3 linked regions of the Homo sapiens genome follow. The protein of the gene in region 3 purifies or fractionates together with the protein of the main gene of each other region. This does not show direct contact. Each region holds a gene or a part of one and is shown on either strand. Other genes may lie near its edges. The genes, in order: MINK1, CPNE2 and PRDM15.

Evidence for each region.
Region 1: the proteins of PRDM15 (region 3) and MINK1 fractionate together in Homo sapiens (co-fractionation; one large-scale study listed by BioGRID). This does not show direct contact.
Region 2: the proteins of PRDM15 (region 3) and CPNE2 fractionate together in Homo sapiens (co-fractionation; one large-scale study listed by BioGRID). This does not show direct contact.

The regions. Positions count from the first base shown.
Region 1 is NC_000017.11:4,878,308-4,882,029, forward strand, and holds part of MINK1 (misshapen-like kinase 1), read left to right. Parts: intron 1-9; coding exon 10-75; intron 76-2,676; coding exon 2,677-2,733; intron 2,734-2,806; exon of another isoform or gene 2,807-2,824; coding exon 2,825-2,950; intron 2,951-3,722. UniProt on the Homo sapiens protein: Serine/threonine kinase which acts as a negative regulator of Ras-related Rap2-mediated signal transduction to control neuronal structure and AMPA receptor trafficking.
Region 2 is NC_000016.10:57,120,083-57,123,582, forward strand, and holds part of CPNE2 (copine-2), read left to right. Parts: intron 1-1,010; coding exon 1,011-1,109; intron 1,110-1,591; coding exon 1,592-1,678; intron 1,679-3,331; coding exon 3,332-3,391; intron 3,392-3,500.
Region 3 is NC_000021.9:41,799,287-41,803,008, reverse strand, and holds part of PRDM15 (PR domain zinc finger protein 15), read left to right. Parts: intron 1-87; coding exon 88-297; intron 298-1,286; coding exon 1,287-1,769; 3' UTR 1,770-3,722. UniProt on the Homo sapiens protein: Sequence-specific DNA-binding transcriptional regulator. Plays a role as a molecular node in a transcriptional network regulating embryonic development and cell fate decision.

The sequences.
Region 1 (3,722 bases), on a different chromosome or scaffold from region 3:
TGCCCCTAGGACCCTGCTGGGATCTTTGAGCTTGTGGAGGTGGTCGGCAATGGAACCTACGGACAGGTGTACAAGGTGAGACGAATGGTGTGGAAGTATGACCTCCACATCTGCAGGGCAGTCTTGGGAGGAGTGGAAGGAAGTAGATTCCTGGTCTGCAGGTCTGAAGGGGGCTATGGGAGATGCTAGAGTCTAGGGCCCTGGAAAGGTAGAGTGGGGGAGAGGAAAGAGCACCCAGAAGGAGGTACTGTTGATGCCTCTCTCTACCTGAGTGCAGAGCCAGTCCCGGACATGGTGGGAACAGGCCAGCAGCCAGGCAGGGTGGCCTGCAGCAGTGAGAGCAGGTGGAAGGGCATACGGCCTTGTGTGTCAGAACTCTCCTGGGATTCAGAGAGAGCTAAGGCCAGAGATGTGGGTTTGGCCTCTCCCCAGACCACAAAGAGACCCAGGACTTTGAGGTAGTGGGACCTAATGGGTGGCCTTCTGCAGAGGGGATGTGGCCTCTGCTCCCACAGCTGGCCTGCTGGGGCCAGAGCTCAGGCTTTTGGCTTTTGAGCTGCCTCTGTCCCTGACAGAAGTGGCAGGTTCTCAGCCACTGATGGTAGCTTTTAGGTTGGCCAGCCCAGCCCTCTCGTGTGGCCTGACCACACTGCTCACACTTGGATGGGGGGAGCCACTCCAGCGGGGAGTAAGGTGGCCTGACCACTGCTCACACTTGGATTGTGGGAGCCGCTGCAGCAGGGAGTGAGGTGGCCTGACCACTGCTCACACTTGGATTGTGGGAGCCGCTGCAGCAGGGAGTGAGGTGGCCTGACCACTGCTGACACTTGGATTGGGAGGAGCCGCTGCAGCAGGGAGTGAGGTGGCCTGACCACTGCTGACACTTGGATTGTGGGAGCCGCTGCAGCAGGGAGTGAGGTGGCCTGACCACTGCTCACACTTGGATGGGGGGAGCTGCTCCAGCAGGGAGGGAGGATGCTCAGGGTGAATGCTGCCTCTGACTGGAGCCCCCTGGGGCCCGTGGCTTTTTCATCTCCAGACAGAGTGCTTGATACTGTCACAAGTCTCTTCTACATCTCTAGCCCCGTGTTTCCTGTGTCGCTGAGACCACCTGCCTTTCTCTTACACTCCTTCTCTTGCAAACTTTGGGGAAACAGGCACCCCACCCGCAATCTCTTGCCTTGTTGTTGCCATGGGAATAGTGGTGCCATGTGCTCCTGCGTCTCTGGGCTTGGGGTCTTGAATGGCTGAGGATAAAAATTACCCATGGGCTGGCAAAGCCAGTCCATCCCCATGAGGGGCCACCTTCCTCCATCCTGCTCGTCCCCAGGAAGCCTTTGGGCATTCCTCTCCAAGCCTTAGATGCTCCCACTGGGAATTTCAGAAGGATGTTGGGGGAGGAGGGCAATGGCTGGGGACACACTCAAGAAGAGGAAGTTTCTTCCCACTAGGGCTGGTGACAGGAGCATTAGCACATGTCGGCGGGCCCCTCTGTGTTTCTCTGAGTTCCCTAAAATCTCAGCTCTGTCTCTGTTCTTTCCCTATCGACAAGAATAAAAAGCTTTGTGGGTGAAGTTGATTCTGGGAGAGGCCTCCTGTCCAGAGTTGGTGAGTCAGGAAAGCACTGCAGCATTTTCTCTTGCTTAGGAGAAGAGGGTGAGGCAAAGCCCCTCCCTCCCTAGCCTCCTTCTCCTACTGCCTCCATCCTCCGTTAGGGTGGAGAAGTATCTTTCACGCCCTGCTCTAACTTTCAGACTGTAGAAAGTCCAAGCCAGAGAGGCTGGAACAGAACATAAATGTTTCTCCCTCATCTGTCTTGAGTTTTTATGGGAGGAGACCCTTCGCCTTTATTGAGCCTGTAACTTGGAAGTCCACTGTAGGTGGTTTTTCTGTTGGCCATGATGGCTCAGGAGCGCTCTCTGTCCACTCCCATGAGCAGCACATTCACTGAGGTGTGTAGCCACAATGAGGGGTACTTGCTTTTTTTCTTTTCTTTTTTTTTTTTTTTGAGACGGAGTCTTGCTCTGTCCCCCAGGTGGGAGTGCAGTGGCACAGTCTCGGCTTGCCTCCCAGGTTCAGGCAATTCTCGTGCCTCAGCCTCCTGAGTAGCTGGGATTATAGGCGCCCACCATGACACCCAGCTAATTTTTTGTATTTTTAGTGGAGATGGGGTTTCTCCATGTTGGCCAGGCTGGTCTCGAACTCCTGGTCTCAAGTGATCCGCCTGCCTCGGCCTCCCAAAGTGTTGGGATTACAGGCATGAGCCACAGCGCCCGGCTGAGGGGCACTTTGTAAGATAGAAAACAGTCGGGCCGGGCGCGGTGGCTCATGCCTGTCATCCCAGCACTTTGGGAGGCCGAGGCAGGCGGATCACGAGGTCAGGAGATCGAGACCATCCTGGCTAACACGGTGAAACCCCATCTCTACTAAAAATACAAAAAAATTAGCCGGGCGAGGTGGTGGATGCCTGTAGTCCCAGCTATCCGGGAGGCTGAGGCAGGAGAATGGCGTGAACCCGGGAGGTGGAGCAGGCAGTGAGCCGAGATCGCGCCACTGCACTCTAGTCTGGGCGACAGAGCGAGACCCTGTCTCAAAAAAAAAAGCTGTGTCTCCTAGAGTCAAGCCCTCTCTACGCTCCACCCTCTGAGCATAGACTCAGATCCCTCTGTCCCGCAGGGTCGGCATGTCAAGACGGGGCAGCTGGCTGCCATCAAGGTCATGGATGTCACGGAGGTAGGGAGTGGAGCTGGGCAGTGGGAGGGTCGGACCAGCGAGAAGGGAGTGTTGGGGGAGTCTCAGGGCTCAGCTCCTCCCATCTGCTTAGGACGAGGAGGAAGAGATCAAACAGGAGATCAACATGCTGAAAAAGTACTCTCACCACCGCAACATCGCCACCTACTACGGAGCCTTCATCAAGAAGAGCCCCCCGGGAAACGATGACCAGCTCTGGGTGAGAAACGCCCCCCTGCCCGCCTTCCCTCCCCGCAATCCCTGTCTCCGGGCTGTTCACTAGGACTCAGTATCAGTGCCCAGCATCTCTCCTTGCCAGCTACCCTCCCTCCGGTCTACCCAGCCTCCCCTGTCCCTGGACCCAGAGGGGCCTCCTGCCTCATGGATGGCCCCGCACTCCAGCCCCCATGAACTGCAGCATCTCATCCTTTGAGTGTTTTGTGGGGAGGGGTCCTGGCGTTTGCCCCAACCCTTCCCCTAACCAGTGTCTCACACTGTGCGATCGGCTCTTAATAAATAAATATAATCCTGGCAAAGGGGAGAGAGACCGTGGGGAGGCCGTCCATCCATTTTCCTGCCTTTGAGCACAGCTCCTGGGAAAGCAACAGAACCAAAATATTTGTGGGAGATAACAGGGCCCAGACCCCTCCCAGAACCCCAGATGCTACAGAGCACCCAGCCCTTCTGGGTCATCATTCAAAACAGAGCCTGCTGCAGAGCTTGGGGCCTCCCCCAAATTCCTCCTGCCTGGCCCAGAACATTCCTAAGAGTCATTCCCCTCCCTAGCCTGGGCACTGGTGCTGACATGTTCCCCCAGCCTCACCCTTTGTGGTACTGAGCCCAGTCCCTGAGGATGGAGCAGCAGGGAGTGTGGCAATGGCTGTCGGGAGTTTTGGCGCTGACGCCAGGTCTCCCCTCCCAACAGCCATTCAGAGAAGCACTTACTAAGCACTTCTGTATACTCTGTATAGATGAGCATGAGCCATGGTCCT
Region 2 (3,500 bases), on a different chromosome or scaffold from region 3:
GCCAACATGGGAAAACCCCATCTCTACTAAAAATACAAAAATTAGCCGAGCATGGCGGTGCACGCCTGTAGTCCCAGCTACTCAGGAGCCTGAGGCAGGAGAATCACTTGAATGTGGGAGGCGGAGGTTGCAGAGCCCAGATTGAGCCACTGCACTCCAGCATGGGTAACAGAGCAAGATTCTGTCTCAAAAAAAAAAAAAAAAGTTATAGGCCGGGCGCGGTGGCTCATGCCTGTAATCCCAGCACTTTGGGAGGCCAAGGTGGGTGGATCACGATGTCAGGAGATTGAGACCACCCTGGCCTCTCACGTGAGGCCTCTCACCCACCCTCTCACGGTCTTTAGTAGAGACCGTCTCAAAAAAAAAAAAAAATTATAAAATAAAATCAAATAAATAAAAAATAAAAGCTCTTGGTCCCCAGGGGCTGGGTCTGAGAGCAGATGGGACTGGGGAGACAGCTAGGTCAGGACAGAGATTCCCAAGTAGGATACCAGGAATCTTAGGTTCTAGTACTGGGTCTGCTACTGCTGCTGTGAGACTTTGGGCAGGTACATCTCTTTCAGGGCCTCAGTTTACCCATCAGTGGGATGGGAACAATAATCCCTGCCTTCCTCCTAGGAGGGCCATAGCAGCTCAGACAGCATATAAAGCTGTGATTTCTGTGCTCATCTCAGAAAAAAATATGTCTAGAGAGGGCCCCAGGCCATAAGCTGGGTGGGTCACAACCCGAGGTGGAGGGGGAGCCATTTGCCAGGTGTATAAGGAGTGGAGTTGCCTGCACTAGAGGGTACAGCCTCCATCAGTGGGGCAGACACACTTTCTCCTTTTCCCAGCAATCACAGAAGTCTTCCTGCAGGAGGCAGTTCAGGAGCTATCCAGGCCAGCTAGGCAGATGCTGAGGAGAGGCACTACCCAAACAGAAGACAGAGGGTTTGCTTGGGGAGTTGAGAGGGGCTGGAGAGCACCTCTTGGGGGACAGCTCTGGGGTGACCGTGCTGAACCCACCCCAGGTCATGTGCTACGACTATGACAATGACGGGGGCCATGACTTCATCGGCGAGTTCCAGACCTCAGTGTCACAGATGTGTGAGGCTCGAGACAGCGTCCCGGTGAGATGGGCACGTGTACTGTAACCCCAAGACCTCAGCAGGGCTGGGGGAAGGGGCACCGGGTCTTGGGTCAGGCAGCCTGGGGCTGAGATCCCCCTTCTGGCTGCATGACCTTGAGCAAGGCATTCAATCTAAGACTCAGTTTCTCCATCTGTCAATGGGGGCAGAGGATTTGGGTGGGGATTGAATGAGATGATGCAGGCGAAGTGCCCAGCATATAGTGAGCAGTCAGGAGCTATCCATTTAAGTCATTCCGTGATGTTGGGCCCTCAGCTGGACAGTTTGGGGGTGCGTTATCTGGGGAGGAGGGAGGCAGATGCTGATCCTGCTACCATTTTTGGGTGTGGACATCCTGGGAGGCTCCCTGGAGGAAGCATGCTGCCCCCATTGTCAAGCCTGTGGAAGGGATTCTAGGGCCAAGGAGGAGGATCTGTTTCCAAAGAAGCCCCGAGGTGAGTGTCTCTTTCTTTTGCGTTGCCCAGCTGGAGTTCGAGTGCATCAACCCCAAGAAGCAGAGGAAGAAGAAGAACTATAAAAACTCGGGCATCATCATCCTGCGATCCTGCAAGGTGAACCAGCGTGGGCAAGCACGAGCCAGGGGCCAGGTTTCAGGCCACACAGAAGGGACAGACAGAGCACTGGATCTGGAGCCAGCGAGGCCTGTGTTCAAATCCCGGCTCTGCCACATCCTGGCCCTATGGCCTTCTGAGCTTCACCTCACCAGGCCTCAGTCTCCTCATCTGTGGAATGGAGATATTAACGAGGCAGAGCATGTCCAGGGTTACTCTTCTCTCACATTCCTGTGTGGAGGCCAGGGAAGGCACGAGCTGACCTTCCAGGGCCTGTCCTGGTGGGAGAATTGTCATTGCGAGTTGCTGCCGCCCACGGTGGGCATGCAAGGGGCAGAGGACATTGGGTGGGGACACCCTGTCCTCTCTGGCATCAGCGTCACTGTGACTCCCATGGTACAGCCGGGGCCACTGAGGCCCAGAAAGGCAATGAAGTTCATGTCAGCAGTGGCCAGGCTGTGGGTGGGGGCCAGAAGACCTGGTGGGCAAATAACTGCTGGATCTGGCAGAACATTAAGGAAGGCAGCCTGGGGCAGGAGAGCAAGAGACCTGGGCTCAGGGCCTGACAGCTCAGGAGTCTGGCCGCTGCTCTCCACCAGCAGGTGGATCCCAGACTCCCACCTTATTTGGAGCCTCGTCTGGCTAGGGTTTACACGAACATTCAGTGGTGTCACGACAAAAAAGCACTCCGTTAAAGGTCAAGATGTCAGGTTGCAGCCTTGTGATGGATGGTCCTTGTTTCTGAAGTTTCCATCATTCACATCACTTTTCACAATTTCTGGCACCTGCCTTACTTATTTTTTTGAATCAGTCTTTCTTCCCTGTATTATTGTTTTTTGTTTTTGTTTTTGAGACAGAGTCTCACTGTGTTGCCCAGGCTGGAGTGCAGTGGCGTGATCTCAGCTCACTGCAACCTCCGCCTTCCAGGTTCAAGGGATTCTCCTGCCTCAGCCTCCCAAATAGCTGGGATTACAGGTGCATGCCACTACGCCTGGCTAATTTTTGTGTTTTTAGTAGAGATGGGGTTTCATTATGTCGACCAGGCTGGTCTTGAACTCCTGACCTCAAGTGATTTGCCTGCCTTGGCCTCCCAAACTGCTAGGATTACAGGAATGAGCCACTATACCTGGCCTGTTTCTTTTCTCTTTTTTTTTTTTTTTAACTTAAATACATTTATTTAGAAAGAGATTATTAGAACTCTACCAAAATTAAAAGATCTGCCTTCTTTGCCAAAAAGAGACAAAGACCATCAAAACAACTTCTAGAGGAAGGCCTTGAGCTGGAGGCCTGCTCTTTCTCTTTGTTAAAAAGGTAGATTAATAAGGGCCAGGAGAAGGTAAGTACCTAACAGTGACAAATTGAGACACTCTGTGTCAGGTAACTGACACTGGGCCCTGGCACCCTGCCTGGAACCAGCATGTGTCTGTGTATCTGTGGGGTGTGGGGGTCTCTGTGAGTCCCCCACCCATTAGGAACCATTGCACTGAAGGCTTTGTTATAGAGAGATTTGGGTTTTGTTGTAATTAGATCAGGCCCATCAGCTTTTTTTGACCTCCTTGTCCCTACTGAGGTTGCAGGACATAGAGCAACAACTCCCCCATGGGGAGTGTGACCAAGTCAAGGGGACCCACTGACTCATCCGCTTTCTTCCAGATAAACCGAGACTACTCCTTCCTTGACTACATCCTGGGAGGCTGCCAGCTCATGTTCACCGTAAGGCTCTCCCCGCTGGCTCCCTCTGCACCCCCATCCCAGTGAGGGTCCTCCCTGAAGACTTGGGCCACTAGTGCAGCCAGAGGGACTTAGGGTAGACTTCAGGAAG
Region 3 (3,722 bases):
GTGTCCAGGGCAGTGCTGGGGCTGCCCTGGCCGCTGCCTGACGTGACCGACTAACCTGGTTCTCGGCTGAAACCGATTTTTCTGCAGCCTGAGCTGACTCTGGAGCAGGAGGATTTGGCCGAAGGGAAGCACGGGAAAGCTGCCAAGCGAAGTCACAAGAGAAAGCAGAAGCCAGAAGAGGAGGCGGGTGCTCCGGTGCCCGAGGACGCCACCTTCAGCGAATACTCAGAGAAAGAGACGGAGTTCACAGGCAGTGTAGGCGACGAGACCAATTCCGCAGTACAGAGCATTCAGCAGGTCAGTTTGCTGCTTTATGTTCTGATTAGGTGCCGGTCACTTTCCCTAAGCATGAGAGCCTTACGTGTGTGTGACTCCATCTCTTTTTACTATACACAGTGTACATGTGGACTTCATGTGGTTGAAGGCAGCAGACATTCTGTTTTTCACTTAAGCATGTTTCATGTAAGCATTTCTGAGTTCTGACCTACAAATCATGCTTGTCATTGTTAGTAGCAACATATATTCTAGCATGTTGAAGAGAGATATCCCTGCCCGGGTGGCAATTAGGTAGGCTGTTTGCAGTTTGGGGAGGTCACGGGTGGCCTACCCAAGTGCCCTTATGGTGAAAGCTCAGCCCTGTGCATTTGCTGACTAGCCGGAGAGCAAGGATCCCTCAGTCTGGAAGGTGAAGACAATCCCACAATCCCACTTTCTCGAGTGGAACCTTCTGTCTTGCTCAGCCTTCGTCACTTTTGCTTTTGAAGCCTCTGAGTGTTTGATCAGTCTGTGTCTAATACTGCACTTCTCTCTCTTGTTTTGGGGGATGGTAATCTTGACTGCAAAAGTTCCTCATTTATTTGGCCTTTCATCCCTCTCCATGAAAGAGAATGCTTTCTCTTATTAGCGATTGGTACTGCAAATACCTTTATTGCTCTTTGTAGCTTTGTGGTGGGATTTTCATTTACCAACAGCAGGGCACTTCAGAGGAATGGATAGAAAAGGAAGCATCTGTTTTCCGTCTTTTTCGTGCTTACTTTTTTCTATTTTTTTCTAGCCAGTGAAATTAATTTGTTTCTTAGTTCCTTCTCATTGCTTTCATGATTGTGTCTGTTTCTTGTTTTTGTTTCTCGCTGGAATTTTTCCAGAACAAAATTAACTCGGTTTCCTCTTTCACCAAAGAATGTCGTGCTTCTTTGGTGTGGTAACACAGAGCGCATCCTGGGGAGGTCCTTGCGTTCCCCATTTTGCAAAAATGAACGGATTTTTGTTGTGTGTGAATCTTCCAGGTAGTGGTGACCCTGGGTGACCCAAATGTGACCACACCATCGAGCTCAGTCGGCTTAACCAACATCACCGTGACCCCCATCACCACTGCGGCCGCGACTCAGTTTACCAATCTCCAGCCGGTGGCCGTGGGGCACCTTACCACCCCTGAACGCCAGTTACAGCTGGACAACTCAATCCTGACCGTGACCTTTGATACCGTCAGCGGCTCTGCCATGTTGCACAACCGCCAAAATGACGTCCAGATCCACCCCCAGCCGGAAGCCTCGAACCCACAGTCTGTGGCCCATTTCATCAACCTGACGACCCTGGTCAACTCCATCACGCCCCTGGGGAGCCAGCTTAGTGACCAGCACCCGCTCACGTGGCGGGCAGTGCCCCAGACTGACGTCTTGCCACCCTCGCAGCCGCAGGCACCCCCACAGCAGGCGGCCCAGCCCCAGGTGCAGGCGGAGCAGCAGCAGCAGCAGATGTACAGCTACTGAGCTGCGTTCCGGGAGACTCGGGGCAAGAACTGCAGAGGGATGTTTGGGATTTGTTTAGATGTGTTTGCTGGATACCAAACAAACAAAAAGTCATACATTGCAATGTAAGGTTGACTTAGCTTTGCAGAGTATCTCCAGATCCCCCGCCAGCAACCATTACGGTCTGTCAGCTTAACTCTAGAAGGGACCTCTGGCAGGCCAGAGTTTTAAACTGGATGGGGCTCCACACCATGCCTTACCAAGGCAGTAAGTCCTGGGCCGGGGCCGCATCTGCCTCCCCTTACAGAACCAGTGTTCGCCCGACACAGGGTTCGGGAAAGTGAAGCTGAGAGAGAAGCAGGATTTTAAGAGGCAGGAGATAAGTTATTAGGAACACAAATGGTTCATTTTCTTTTTTCTTTTAGAGCTCGGTTCCTATGAGAACACAGACAGTATTCACAGGTGGCAGCAGGCAGCAGGGAACATTTTCTCCTCACTTCTGGATTTTTTTGCAAGCGAGCACATAGAAGTTAAAGTAACGTGTATTCTCTTTGAACTAGGAGTGGAGTCGGTTCTTATACAACTATGGGCTGAAACCATGAGGCGTGCTGAGCCGCACCTGATCCTGCAACCTTCGAGGTCATCACGGTCATCATGTGCAAGGGGTCACGTGAGGTCACTGACTCCAGCTCAAAACGCATCTTAGTAATATCCATGAATCGATTTCCAATAGAGTTTTTTTCCTTTTTTTTTTTTAACTTTATTTCAAACATACATTATGTGTTCAAGACTGTTATGGCCAATATTGTGTTTTAGTTTTATGTTAACATGATAAAGTCATGTGCACTGTAGGACCATCTGTCCCTGTCCACCCTTCACAGCTGCCCAGATGCAGAGGGTCGCGCGGCTGTGTGTGAGGAGTGAGCCTCCCTGCTGCCCCCAGGGGCTCCTCCGGGTTGTCTCAGGATTCTCTGCAATCCAAATGTATCCATTCTGGCTGAAGCCCAGCCAGAATCCCGAGTGGAAGAAACGGGGGAAAAGTCATATTTTCCTTCTGTTTAAACTTCAATTCCAAAGGTTGGTGTATTTCATGACCAGTTTTCTATAAAAATATTGAATGAGTTTGGCTCTTTACAATGGAAAAGTGTAGGTATTTCTGAAACACAGAGAAAATGCTATTTCCTGCCAGGTGGTAATGAAAGCAGAGAGGTTAGTTCACTAATAGAAGCATTAATTGCCCCTAAAACTGAATGTGCGGTGAACAGCCAGGTCTGCGTGTGCGGGGACACGTGCTGTCACGTCTGTGTACCAGTTTCGGGGGCAGGGGCCAGGGTTGGGGGAGGCACCCAGCCCTCCTGCTGCCCACGACAAGAAACACTGAGAGGTGTGGGGAGAAGTTTGCTCTTAACTTTCCTGGTACTCTGTTTGTGGCCACAGTGAGAGGACAAACCTGCCTTAAGGTGTCCTGCTTTGCCAGTTATCCCAGATCCTGCACTCACTGGGAGTCCATCTTGAGGAAACACTGGCATGGCTGAGTAATTGATCAGGAGCAGTCCTGATGTTGCCAGCAGAACAAAGGATGATTGTGTTTTTCAAAACGCAACTTTCTCAGCACTTCACTCCAAACAGCAGACTTTTGAGGACAGGGCTGGAATTTGTTTTGTGCAATATATGCCTTCATGAACTAAGGAATGTTCATCCCCAGGCAGCATGCAGGAGGGTCTGTGGGGCTCACCTCCTCACCTTACCCACCATCACTCGCGCCTAGCTCTCACCTCTCAGTTGAATGAATAGTGGGAGATCATTTGACTTTTAATTTATGAGAATTATTTTATGTTATTTATGTATATAATTAACTGTTTTATACATAGTAGTCTCATCAAATGAATTCGGGCTTGGGGTGATATTGTCTCCATTCTCCAGATACAAGTGCTCCAGGCATCCATGGAATCAGCAGGAGACCAGGGCTCCTAA